Linked DNA regions of Homo sapiens. The protein of the gene in region 3 interacts with the protein of the main gene of each other region in a pairwise test. Each region holds a gene or a part of one and is shown on either strand. Other genes may lie near its edges.

Region 1 (3,500 bases), on a different chromosome or scaffold from region 3:
TACGGGGCTGGCTTGATCCTGCAACACAGGACAACACTGGTTAGGCATGAGCACAAGAAATCTGCCCTGAGCATGAACAGCCTGAAGCTGGCCTGTGTGAGGATGACTCACCCTGTTTGTGGCTTTGACCAATGGACCCTATCACCCTGGATTCTGGTGGTGGCTCAGAGATGTCTCCATTATCCTTTCAGAAAAAATGATAATCTCAACTAACTTTTCACTGTTTTGGTATAAATCTGTATTTTGAAAAGGCTAATGTGGCTTAGACAAAATAACAATCATTGCAGAAATGTGTTTTTTGTTTAGATGGGAAAAGGGAAAGCATAAGGGAATGTTTCCCATAAGCCAGGCTTTGCTCTCCATTTAATCTTGACTACCCTAGGGCAGGGGTAATTATCACCTTGCACTGCAGTCCAAGAAGCGGAGGCTGAGGGAGGTGAGGGAAGTGCTGAGCTGATGAGGTCTGCCTCCAGAGCCCACAGTCTGCACTGCCTCACTTTCACCAAAAGCAATTTGCTTCCTGCCGCTATGGCTACCTCTAAGGGTTGATAGCACACAAAAGCCAGGTAAGAACACAGATCTTACTTGATTTTCTCAGGGACAGCTGCTCCTCCCGTTCCAAACTTTTCCTGCCTCCTCCGGACGTCACGAGGTGGCTTGGCCACAGAGTTGACAAAGGCCATCTTTGCTTGTCGGCCTGTGGAATTATGGAGATGAACATCTGCCTTCTTGAGCAGAGATGCTACTGTTATTTAAATAATCCACGGGCTTTTTGAGTGCCCTGAAACCCCACTTGTAGGGTAGAATGGGCGGTGGCAGAAGAAATACCCACCCTGCTACCTGATGTAGGGGCAAGCAGTCCTACACCAGCCAAGCCCACCAACACCCTGCTATTGACCAGAACACTCATCCTGCCAGTTCTCCCCCAGCTCTCCCGTCTCTGTTACCTTTGGGCTTATTGGCATGTGCGAACTGGATATTCTTTGTTAGTACTCGTAGCCGCTGCTCTCGGGCGTCCTGAAGCCGCAGGTACATCTCTCGCCACGACTCATACTCTTCGGGTCTTTCTTCCTTAAAGTCTCGGTGACAATGAACTTTCCATAATTGATCTGTTTCTTCAATTAATACCTGAAACCAGAACCAGGACATCATTTGTGTACAAGCACTTTTCCATATTTTTTTTTTTTTTTTGAGACAGAGTCTTGCTCTGTCGTGTAGACTGCAGTGCAGTGGTGCAATTTTGGTTCACTGCAACCCTTGCCTCCTGGGTTCAAGCGATTCTCACGCCTCAGCCTCTCAAGTAGCCAGGACTACAGGTGCTTACCACCACGCCCAGCTATTTTATATTTTCAGTAGAGATGGGGTTTTGCCATGTTGTCCAGGCTGGTCTCGAACTCCTGACCTCAGATAATCCGCCCACCTTGGCCTCCCAGAGTGCTGGGATTACAGGCGTGTGTCACCATGCCCAGCCTCATATCTTTTTCTGATTATTTAATTACCTAGGAGTGACCAGTTTCCCAAAAATTTTTTGGTCTTCATCTTAGTAGTATGTTAAAATACCACAATTCTAGGAAAAAAATAACTCCCTAAATTTTAAAAATGCGAAGTGTGAGGCACTATGCTAGTTGCTTTTGGTGGCTGTGACAGAATATCACAAAAATCTGTGTAACATCAGTCTTTTCCTTTAGAAAATCAGCAAAGGGTAGAACTGCGATCAAGTCAAATCAGGTACTTCCCAACACTACGCTGAACTGTGATGGCAAAGGGGCAACCTAAGAAGGATGTTAAGTTATTGGCCAGGCGCGTTGGCTCATGCCTGTAATCCCAGCACTTCAGGAGGCCAAGAGTCTGAGAGTCCATCTCTCTAAAAAATAAAAATATTAGCCAGCTGTGGTGGTATGTGCCTGTAGTCCCAGCTACTTGGGAGGATCACTTAAGCCCAGGAGTTCAAGGATGCAGTAAGCCATGATTAGGCCTCTGTACTGCAGTCGAAGCAACAGAGGTAGACCCTATCTCCAAAAAAAAAAAAAAAGGTGTTAGGTCATAGAACTTTCAGAATTAAAGAGAGACAGCTGATGCAATCAAATGTGTATACCCTACATCCTAAGGAGGATTCTGGATAAATCTTGATGTTTCTTAAGAGACATCCAGCCAATCACCAGATGTCAGAGTGTCAACACAAAGTGCTTTCCCCGCCCTGGGTCCCAGCTACTCTGCTGCCAGAATTCTCCCTTTACCTTCATGACTAGGCAAGCTCAAGGGAGATGTTAAGTGTTTTTCTTCTCCCTTTGAATCCCACCCTGATCCTAGCCCAAGAGGCCCACTTAAGGTGCCAGGAGCAAGTGCTAATAACATGCTTGTTTAAAGGCCCAGTGGCAAACCAAATATATCCAGAACAATGCTCTGACCACTGATCTGCCCTTCAGCCACAGCGGAGTCACAGGGACAAAGCTATTTCTGGAGGTACAAGCCAGAAAACTGCCCTCTTCCCACCCAAACAGAATACTCACATGATTGTATTCCTCTATGCGATACAGCTGATCAGGTGTACACCTCTCCAAAACGGGTTCAAGAACAGAGTATGGGACTCCTCCCACTTCAAAGATTGCTGCAGAGAAACCAAAGGTGAAGACACTGAGTAGCAGCCAAGCCACCCAGTGATAAGGTCCAAGTGCTACAATGTGCTTGAGAGCTAGAGAGAAGCGTGTGACTTACAATCGATGTTGTTTTTAAGTACTCGGATGCATTGCTGGTGCAAGGTCATCATTTTAGGGAGATAGGCACACTTGGAACCAGAATACACCTGCATCTTGGAATTCATTCTGCGCCCAGTAAATCCAGCTTCTTCTTCTTCCTGGGGTGAAGAGAACGCTATAGGGCAAGAAAAACACAAAAGGCCCTAAGTGATCCAGTGAAAACTCTCCTTCTACCCCCTTCAGCCTCCTACTTCCCTTTCCCAATGGCAATCCACGCTACAGATTTTTGTAGATCCTTCCAGAGAATTTAAAAATAAGCTCCTGTAATCCCAGCACTTTAGGAGGCCAAGGCACATGAATCATCTGAGGTCAAGAGTTCGAGATCAGCCTGCCCAACATGCACCTGTAGTCCCAGCTACTCAGGAGGCTGAGGCAGAGGAATTGCTTGAACCTAGGAGGTGGAGGCTGCAGTGAGCCAAGATGGAGCTACTGCACTCCAGCCTGAGTAACACAGCAAGACTCTCAACAGCAACAACAAAAAAAAGCAAATGTATCTTATTCCTTTTAAGCCAATGAATCAATTAATAACATACTCACTACATACATTGCTTTTTTTCATTTGCCACATCTGAGAGATCATTCCATGTCAGTGCATAGACTTTCCACATTTTTTTTTTACTGTGGCATAGGATGCCACTGTGTAGATGAACCATGATTTATCTGTTAGTCTCCTGCTGATAGACCCTTATGTGGCTTCTACTTCTTTTGCTATGAAAATTAGACATTTTTTTCTTTCAGACAAAA
Region 2 (3,039 bases), on a different chromosome or scaffold from region 3:
GGAGGCGCAGCGGAGGTGGCCGCCAGGGGACGCTCGGGAGCCCCGTGGGCCGTCAGGCTGTGGTGCAGCAGCTCCTCCTCCTGGCTGGAGCCGAAACTGCACAGGCCGCACTTCCAGGGCCTATGCAGGATGTGCAGGTGGCGTTCGCGCTCCGCCGAGGTGCGAAACTTGCCTTTGCAGTAGGGGCAACGGAAGGCGGACGATGAAGGAGCCTGGGGCCGCGCCAGACCCTCAGTGGCAGGGGTGGCCTGCATGCCCCCTGAGCTTCGGGCTCTCCCCAGTCGGGCCTCGCGTAGTAGCGCGCGCTCTTCCAACTCCAGCAACAGGCGTGCAGCAGGACTACGTGGGCGCTCGGGCTGGTGTGTGCGCAGGTGCGAGCGCAGCAGAGCCCGCTGCGCCGCGCGGTGGCCGCAGTGAGGGCACTGGAAGGCCTGGGCTCCTGGGTGCGCCCGCAGGTGCAAAGCAAGGATAGAGTTGAAGCGGAAGCGCTTCCCGCATACAGGGCAGGGGAAGCGCCGTTCGCCTGCACGACTCTCAGACCAGCTCACCGCTCCCATCCCGAGCGACCCTGCGCTCACGGCTGGCCCGTTGGAGTATCGCTGCAGATCCAGCTCGCCGTCGAAAGCCGGCGGCGACGGCGCTAAGTGGCCGCTCGGGGCGCGGGGACGTGAGCCCTGTGGAGAAAGATCTGCGTAGAGCAAAGGGTGAAGGTAGAGCTGTAAAGGAAGCAAGGGCGTCGCCTCGAGGGCCAGAAGGACAACACGAGGGAAGGTGGGCTGGGGCCTGAACTAGGAACACAGGGTGCTACTCACCTCGGGAAGATGGGGTGGGGGGAGGTGTATGGGAATCGAGATGTCAGGGCCAAGGAGTTAACTTCTAATAATGGGAGGTCAAAGAGAGAGAGAGGTAGGCAGGAGAGGGAGTATACAGTTGTAGGTACTTGTAGGTTGAAGCCAGAGCTTCACTCACCTCCATGGACCCCCTTCACATTCTTTGGTTCTGGGAAGTGCAGGGAAGAGGAGGAAAAGCTGCTAATGAAGGCAACAGGTGCTGTGGAGCTAAAGCAAGAGACAGATTTGGAGGAAAAGATGAGCCCTAGTTTTCAGCAGTAAAGTCACTCCCTACCCCCAGACTCTCAGCATTCTGTATTCCCAAAACCAATCCATTCTCCCTACTTGCTTCTTGAGGCACGAAGGGGCTGCTATACTCAAAAACTGTACCTCTTGACTTGCCAAGCCTACAAGCCTCCCAGATAATCCAGATTTCTTCCCCAAATTCTATATTTTAAATGCATGGTCCAGAACAACCACAGCTACCACCCCACCCCCTGGCGGTGGGGAAGACCATCACAATATGCCCCTCTCCCATGTAGGTTGGGCTATGCAGTGTGGTGAGCAAATGAGGTGGGCTTGCCATGCTCCCCATTTATCCAAGTGGGACCAGTTGCTCTGAGATCCCTAACTGAGCAGCCAGCCAAACATCCTTCCAGGTTCCACAGTGCTTCCTTCTGCCCTTACCCTGTCTTTCTGTCTTTCCCCCCTCATTCTCCCTCCCTCCGCCTGGATTCCTGATCCATTCATTTCCATTCATTACAGAGACTCATTCATGCATGGGAGAGAAACACCTCCCAGCAGCAGAGTCTGAAGACAGACAGAGGGGGAGGGGCATGAAGGGGGAGGGAGCCAGAGGGAGAGGGAATGAAGAGAGAGTTGGGGGAGGAGTGGAAGTTAAGGGGCACAGCTAGCCTGGGGAAGGGGCTAAAAACTGCAAATACCGTATAGGATTCATCCCCTTGTTTCAAACCTTGGAGCCTGCAGTATGATGGGGCATCTGAGCCCCTTTGTCCAGGGCTGTTCCGAGGCAGGCTTTCCTCCTCTCTGCAGGGGAGAGGCTCCCTCACACAAGAGGAGGATTACACTGGCTCTGAGCTCAAGAGGCTGGAGTGAGGGACGGGGGGCGGGGCTGGGCCATCTGCACAGATAGGGACTCAGCACATGCTCTGAGCAGGAAAGGGTTAAAATTCTCCAGGCTAAAATTCCCTAGGCCTGGGACTTGCAGAGCTCCAGTGCTGGGGAAGGAGAAGATCATTGAGAGGAAGAGGATAGGGGTTGGGGGGGGGGGCGGGTGCTGATCCTAAGCTGCAGAGGAGTTTAGCATGAGGACTTAGAAGAAACCCCAGAATCAAGATTCATGGAAACAGACCTGGGAGGATGACCAGAAGTCATCTAGTCTACCTTTCTGCCTCATATAGAATAGTATCTGGTCAAGGCTAAATGAATGTGGGTCTAACCTTTTTTTTTTTTTTTTTTTGTCTAAGAAAGGATATTTGAGATATAAAGAACTTCCTTACAATAGGCATCACAAAACTGAAATGGGTTACTGAGAAAGAAAAAGATGCAAGCATTACTTTGCCTAAGGATCTTTAATAGAAAAGAACTGTGCCAGGAGTCAACCTGCCTGTCAGCAGAGAGAAAAGGCTCTGGAGGTCCAAGGCTTCTTTAATTTTTGACATTTAGTGGATGTGGTAAAACTCCATGAAGGGGCAGGTACCTGTTACATGTGGAATCTGGGCTATAGGATTATTATTAGCAGATGATTAATTAACAAAGTGTCCTTGTCCAAGGGTCACTAGACGACCTCCACTACCACTTAATATGTGTATTTCTGTAGCTTCAAATTAGGGCACCCACTCTCATCCTCTGGATCCTTTCCTGGGACTAAGAGCCTAGCCAGGCTTACTGAATAGTGTCACAAAAGGTGAATTAGAATAGGACTGAAGGGTACAAGGCTATTGTAGGCCTAGTCTGAACATTGATAACCCTACAACCTTTACTAAATCACTTAACCTCCCAGTTTACTCATCAGTAAAATAAGGGGATTGGACTAATTTATAGTGTTAGTCCCTTCCTGCTCGAAAAAAGTTTGTGATTCTAAGTCACAGGACTCTTTTGGACCCCAGAGAGATGTTAAAACAAATGGTCATCCCTTCAGTACCATGGAGAGTGCAGTGGGCTACCACAGAAGCCACTTGGGCCACCT
Region 3 (3,500 bases):
CAAAGTGCTAGGATTACAGGTGTGAAACACCGTGCCTGGCCTAATTATTTTATTTTTAGTACACACAAGTTCCTGCTATGTTGCCTAGGCTGGTCTTAAACTCCTAGCCTCAAGAGATCCTTCTGCCTCAGCCTCCCAGAGTGCTGGAATCAAGGTATGAGCCACTGTGCCCAGGCTCTCACAAATATTTTAAGCCCTATCAACCACTAAGATTCTGTTTACTATTAAATTAGCCCAAGCTGGTTTCACAAATCCCATTCTCAATCCTTGAAGCCCCACCCATAGCCCTTGAAGGCCATGCCCACCATATGCTACCACTGACTTACAGCTGAATCCCTCCTAGAGCCTCCTAATTCCTACTCACATTCTACTAAGTCTCCCTCCTGGTCATGGAACCAGCATCCATCACCACAGAAGTCCCAGCTGCTCTCCAAAGTTCCACACACCACATGCTCCCACACTCTATCAAGCTTTCTTTCAGCTTTCATCCCAGACCCCACTTACAATCTGGGCTCAGAATCTTCCCAACACTCCATTCACTTTTTCACTTAGCAAATATCTCCTTTTTTTTTTTGAGATGGAGTCTCGCTCTGTCGCCCAGGCTGGAGTGCAGTGGTGTGATCTCGGCTCACTGCAAGCTCCACCTCCCAGGTTCACACCATTCTCCTGCCTCAGCCTCCAGAGTAGCTGGGACTACAGGCGCCCGCCACCGTGCCCGGCCAATTTTCTGTATTTCTAGTAGAGACGGGGTTTCACCATGTTAGCCAGGATGGTCTTGATCTGCTGACCTCGCAATCCGCCCGCCTCAGCCTCCCAAAGTGCTGGGATTACAGGCGTGAGCCACCGCGCCCGGCCGCAAATATCTCCTTTTTGACATTCAAGCTGCTAATCTGTAACATCTGCTAGGTACCAGACACTGAACTAATGCAGAATGATATCACCTTTTATCTCTACTACAATCTTCTGGGTGACAGACATCACTACATGCACTGTGTAGATGATAAGGCTTTGGCTCAGAGAGGTGAAATGGCTTGTCCAAAGCCACACAGGGCATGGGCCAACCCTATTTCTGAAGCCCTTCTCCTTCCCCTGAGAGGATGACGGCCTTCCTTGCCCTACTCAAGCCCCAATGTCTCCGCATCCCCAGGAGGGCCTCTATGCACCTGCCACGTTCTTCTGCAAGGCTGTGTTTTCAGCCTGTAGCCTCAGCAGCTCCCCATCCACGAGGGGCCCAGCTTGGGCAACCCCTGCTCCTGCAGCCCCCTCCTTCAGTTGCTGGTTCTCTTGCTCCAGCTGTTCCATCTGGCTGCAGAGCTGAACAGAGGAAGAGAAGGGGCAGAGAAGCAGAGAATCAGAGCAGTATTTGCTGAAACCTACATAGCATTTGTCCATGTACTTTACAATTCACTTAATTCCCATAATGACCCTATGATATAGGTGCCCTCCCACTTTACAAATAAGGACATTGAGGCACAGAGATGTTAAACAAGTTCAAATTCACACATCTTTTAAGTGGCAGAGTCAGAGAATACCAAGAGCATACCAAGTATGAGGACACCAAAAACCATTTTCCTCTTCCTACTCCCAACCTCAGAGATGCAATCCAAGACCTCAGGCTCCTCTGGAAGTTGTTAGTGCTACAGACAGCCTCACTGCAACCCCTCTTCTGTGGAGGGCTGGATCCTGGGCCCAGAGATAGCTCCCTCTCATCCTAAGCACCACAAAGAGCTCGCAGGGCATTTCCAGGGCCAACACTGATGACAGCTCCTGCATTGCCAGCCGTTAGTCTTGGAGAGGTATACAATGCCAATACAACTAAGCCAGCCCCCTGCCCAACTCCTGGCTGAAGTACACTTCTCAAAGCAGTCCTGAGAAAATTCCTTGTCCCCATTTTCAGATGAGAATATCGAGGCCTACAGAGAATTTTTATTTTATTGCCTGCAATATTTTCTTTCTTTTTTTTTTTTTTTTTTTTTTGAGATGGAGTCTCGCTCTGTCACCCAGCCTGGAGTACAGTGGCACGATTTCAGCCCACTGCAACCTCCGCCACCCGGGTTCAAGTGATTCTCCTGCCTCAGCCTCCTGAGTAGCTGGGACTACAGGCATGCGCCACCGTGCCCGGCTAATTTTTGTATTCTTATTAGAGACGGGGTTTCGCCATGTTGGCCAGGCTGGTCTTGAACTCCTGACCTCAGGTGATCCACCTGCCTCGGCCTCCCAAAGTGCTGGGATTACAGGCATGAGCCACCGCACCCGGCCTGCTTGCAATATTTTCTACCCAGAACACCAATCCTCTCATCCAGTTCTTCACCTAACTGGCTTCTTTGCATCCCTCAGTGCTCTGCTCAGATGTTGCCTTTAAAGTAGTATCCCTCAACACAGAAAATTCCAGTACTCTCTGTCACAGCACTGTTCATTTCTTTCTTACCTAGTACTAATCAAAATTTTCTTTTGTAACAAGCACAGATTCTGAAACCAGACTGCTTGAATGTGAATTTCTGCTCTGCCATTTACTAGCTGTGTGACAAATTACTTAATCTCCCTGGAACTCAGTTTTCCTCATCTGTCAGATAGGGATACTAATATCTCATAGGCTTATTTCAAAGATTAAATGAGTGAATAATGTAGAGTACTTCAAACAGGACTTGGCACACAGTAAGCACCATATAAATGTCAGCTATCACTACTAGTATTATTTGTTTACTGTTATCATCTTTCTCCTCATCCCACCCCCAGAATGTAAGCTACCCAAGAGTGGAGATCATTCTGTGCTGCTTACAACTGTATTTCCAGAACATAGAGCATGTGGTGGGTACTCAGTAACTATTTGTCGAAGGAACAATTAAGCTGAAATGTCTTGATGAATAAGGGGTGGTGGCAGGTTTAACGTAGCTCTCTCTGAGAGCACTTCCAGTTCCTGGGAGGAGTTGGAGGAGGAAGGGGACTATGTAGGAAGTCTCTACGACTAGCCCAGTGCTGGCCCAGGGCAGATGCAGGGAAACAAGCTGGATTTATGGAAGAATGTCTGCCCCTGCCTCACTCTGCAAGAATCATGATACCATGGAGGCTGGAGGCAGGAAGCAGTGAGGAGTCAGTCAGTGAAGCCAGCAGTTATGTGAATACCAGGGGCTCTGAACTAGGAGCAGGACTGGGGCACTGGAATGTATTAAGTAAAGGAGTGATGTCATAAGATCTGCAGGTCAGAACAGCCTCTGTGGTGTGAACTAAGTAGAAGAAACTAGAAGTGAAGAGACCAGGGAGGCGGCTGTAGAAACAGCAGATGATAAGTGGTAGAGGCTAAGGCAAAGCAGGGCCACAGGGTGGATATAAAACTTTTTTTTTTTAAATTGAGACAGAGTCTTGCTCTGTCGCCCAGGCTGGAGTGCAGTGGTGCAATCTTGGCTCACTACAACCTCCGCCTCCCGGGTTCAAGCGATTCTCCTGCCTCAGCCTCCCGAGTAGCTGGGACTACAGGCACGTGCCACCACACCCGGCTAATT
Region 4 (3,500 bases), on a different chromosome or scaffold from region 3:
TTACCTGTATGCCTTTGTAGTTCCCACTACCTAAAATGTCCTTTGATGTAACTGCAACTTCACCTACCCTTTTATACATACCGTCTTTTAATAACAATTTAGGCATCGTCTCTACCAGAAAGAATTCAGTAGAGGGAAATTGATGTGGAGAGAGATTTCATGATGATATCATGATAGCAGCTAGCATTTGTTGAATATTTACTTTGTGTTGGGCATTATGCCAAGAACTTGGTAAATGTTCTCATTTAACCCTTAAAATAAACCTCTGAGGTAGGTACTGTTATCCCATTTTACAGATGAGGAAACTGAGGTTTAGAGAGATGAAATAACTTGCCCAAGGGCATACACCTTATGAAGCAAGGTCCTGGAAGAGGTGGGAGGAGATGGGTCAAGGTCATTTGGAAGAGTTAACCTCAAACAAGAGGAGGGACAACTCATCATCTGAGACTGGAGGATAGAAGGTAAAGATGGGTGTGGATATAAATTTTTTTTTTTTTTTTTTTTGGTAGGGATAAAGGCAGTTGTGAGAAATTGTGCTAGGTAAGCTGGCAAATGACCAGGTCACTGAAATTGGGCAAGGTTGTCTACTGAAAGTGAAGAGGTTTGGGATTTGAGTAGAGCCCTGAGGAGAGTGGTGAAAGGTTTGAAATTGTGTTTGAAGAGGCTGGAAAGAGAACCATCTAATGATAAGTAAAAGGATTGGAGAGTAATTTGTAGCGGTACAGACTCTGCAGTTGTGATTACCATTTTTTTTTAACTCAGTGAGTGGTACTCAGCCACCTGAATAAAGGACTAATGAGTATATTTTAGTATTGATTGAGGATTCTGTTTTTGCTGGGTAGGTGCAGTAGAAAATATAGCAGTCTAAGGGAATTGAGGATGCAGTGAGAGAATAATAAATTGTGATGGTGAGTGCTGAATAGGGAAAGACAAGAAGCCAGAAAAAGACTGAGCTTCTTAGGAAAACATTAATGGATCACAAACTTGGAGGGCTGTATGGTTTTTCATTTAAGAAAGTAATTGTCGTGCAATAAAGTTATTAAGCCTTGTTCAAGAATATTTTTATTTTGTACATCAAGTGGAGTTGGAAATAGTTGGTTTCATAATGATATATTTCAAAAGTATCTTGAAGTCATCTGGTTCATTTCACTACCCAGGGCACACATTCCTCCTGTAACATCCCAAGTGGTTATTAAGCAAAACAGATTTATTTTATTTAGAAAAAATTAGTATGACTGATTTGCTATTGATTTTGTACTTCTATAATAAATGTGATACATGCTATATTCACTCTTTTTCACAGTGTTCTTTCTTGTGTGTGTGTGTGTGTGTTTTTGTTTTGTTTTGTTTTTTTACCAGCCCTCCTCTGATGCACAGGATAAGCAGTTTGGTACTTGGAGACTGAGAGTCACACCTGTCGATTACCTTCTGGGAGTGGCTGACTTAACTGGAGAATTGATGCGGATGTGTATTAACAGTGTGGGGAATGGGGACATTGATACCCCCTTTGAAGTGAGCCAGTTTTTACGTCAGGTTTATGATGGGTTTTCATTCATTGGCAACACTGGACCTTACGAGGTTTCTAAGAAGCTGTATACCTTGAAACAAAGTTTGGCCAAAGTGGAGAATGCTTGTTATGCCTTGAAAGTCAGAGGGTCAGAAATTCCAAAACATATGTTGGCAGATGTGTTTTCAGTTAAAACAGAAATGATAGATCAAGAAGAGGGCATTTCTTAGAATCTAACGTTACTCAGTTACTAATTCTTTTGAGAACTCCTAAGAGACCAATTTGTAAGACTTATTTAGTATTTCATTTAACTTTATTGTGGCTTTTACATAGAAACATATTCAGTTGTACTTGTTTTAAATTGTATACAAGCTGTACATAAAATTAGCCAAATGAATCATTTCTTATATCTTATTCATGAAAGTTTGCATACAGATGTTTGCATATATGCCTTTTTGAATTTTTGCTGGTTAACCTTTATCATTTATCTTTGTAATGTGAACATGCTTCAGAGTGTACCTTTTGCCATAACCTATTTTAATTTACTTTTTCTGAAGTTTGGAGTGATAATTTTTAGTGGAAGCAATTTGTAATTTAAGTTGGTAGTTATATTATATATAGAAAAGATTTTTTAGTTAAACTTCTGGACATGAGCGTCCTGTTTAAATTTCTTGTTAATATCGTGCCAAGCCTCAAAAATAGGCTTATTCCATGGAACAAGAATTAAAAATGAATAAGCTATCAATATATAATTTAAGTACAAGTTTAGGCTGGGCGTGGTGGCTCACGCCTGTAATCCCAGCACTTTGGGAGGCCGAGGTAGGCAGATCACGAGGTCAAGAGATCAAGACCAGCCTGACCAACGTGGCGAAACCTCGTCTCTACTAGAAATACAAAAATTAGCTGGATATGGTGGTATGTGCCTGTAATCCCAGCTACTTGGGAGGCTGAGGCAGGAGACTCGCTTGAACCTGGGAGGCAGAGGTTGCAGTGAGCCGAGATTGCGCCACTGCACTCCAGCCTGGGTAACAGAGCAAGACTCCATCTCAAAAAAAGAAAGAAAGAAAAAAGAAAGTACAAGTTTATAAAGTATTATAGTGAAAAATTCGCATTCTGGCTGATTTTAAGCCATTTAAAATTTATATAAAACAACCTTCCATAAAAATTTGACAGGTGCCCAGATGTTGCTTTCTCCATTTATTTTTTGTTTTTTTTTAATCACAGTAGGTCTGATAGAGAATTGGAGCTAAATTATAATATTTTTGTTGGTAAAGTTGAGTTATATACTTGTACATACAATGGAAATGCTTTTAGTAGTGATTATTTAGCAATTTTTGTTTTTGTTATATTAGGCATGTTTGGAGGCTTTCCTATTCTAGCATTTAAATTTAAATTTTATTAAAATTAAATAATTTAAATCTAGCATTTAAATTTAAATAATTTAAGTCTAGCATTTACTTTTAAATAATTATAATGAAGTTTTGAAATACTAAGTTAATCCAGACCTTTAGTTGTCCCATGGTGTTAATAAAGTTGCCAAAGAAGATGTATTATGAACAATTCAGCAATAAGACAATTGTCAACACAGTTGAGAATAACAATGGTAATCGTTAGTAATATTTAGAATTGGAATTTGCCTACTGAAATAGTTATAGATGATTACTTGTGATGTGAAACTGAATTGAGCATGACAACCAGACATTTCCAGTTGGTTTTGTAAGTTTTGAGAATCTAGATACTGGGTTTTATTTTTTGAAAGATTAGCTCTGTTTGTAAGGGCTGATTCCTTGAAAATGTAATTTTCCAGAAAAACACCTAAAGAAAATAAAACATGGACATGCCTAGTAAATTCTGTTTTTTTGTTTGTTCGTGTTAGTGATGGTGGGTTTTTTGGTTTTGCAACTCACCTGTAGTCAACTCACTACAGGTGAGTTGGTGCCATTGCTACTGATATATCTCCACAGTTCATGTCATACTAATACTGTGGGTGTTA

What was found. The genes of interacting proteins can lie anywhere in the genome.
Region 1: the proteins of GRIPAP1 (region 3) and ELOA interact in binary tests that used the Homo sapiens proteins (3 or more experiments, as listed by UniProt).
Region 2: the proteins of GRIPAP1 (region 3) and ZNF219 interact in binary tests that used the Homo sapiens proteins (3 or more experiments, as listed by UniProt).
Region 4: the proteins of GRIPAP1 (region 3) and TSNAX interact in binary tests that used the Homo sapiens proteins (3 or more experiments, as listed by UniProt).

The regions. Positions count from the first base shown.
Region 1 is NC_000001.11:23,753,471-23,756,970, reverse strand, and holds part of ELOA (elongin-A), read right to left. Parts: intron 2,872-3,500; coding exon 2,716-2,871; intron 2,609-2,715; coding exon 2,511-2,608; intron 1,129-2,510; coding exon 948-1,128; intron 698-947; coding exon 586-697; intron 19-585; coding exon 1-18. UniProt on the Homo sapiens protein: SIII, also known as elongin, is a general transcription elongation factor that increases the RNA polymerase II transcription elongation past template-encoded arresting sites.
Region 2 is NC_000014.9:21,092,617-21,095,655, forward strand, and holds part of ZNF219 (zinc finger protein 219), read right to left. Parts: intron 1,059-3,039; 5' UTR 976-1,058; coding exon 970-975; intron 675-969; coding exon 1-674. UniProt on the Homo sapiens protein: Transcriptional regulator. Recognizes and binds 2 copies of the core DNA sequence motif 5'-GGGGG-3'. Binds to the HMGN1 promoter and may repress HMGN1 expression. Regulates SNCA expression in primary cortical neurons.
Region 3 is NC_000023.11:48,992,265-48,995,764, forward strand, and holds part of GRIPAP1 (GRIP1-associated protein 1), read right to left. Parts: intron 1,315-3,500; coding exon 1,164-1,314; intron 1-1,163. UniProt on the Homo sapiens protein: Regulates the endosomal recycling back to the neuronal plasma membrane, possibly by connecting early and late recycling endosomal domains and promoting segregation of recycling endosomes from early endosomal membranes.
Region 4 is NC_000001.11:231,563,169-231,566,668, forward strand, and holds the end of TSNAX (translin-associated protein X), read left to right. Parts: intron 1-1,359; coding exon 1,360-1,737; 3' UTR 1,738-3,356; downstream 3,357-3,500.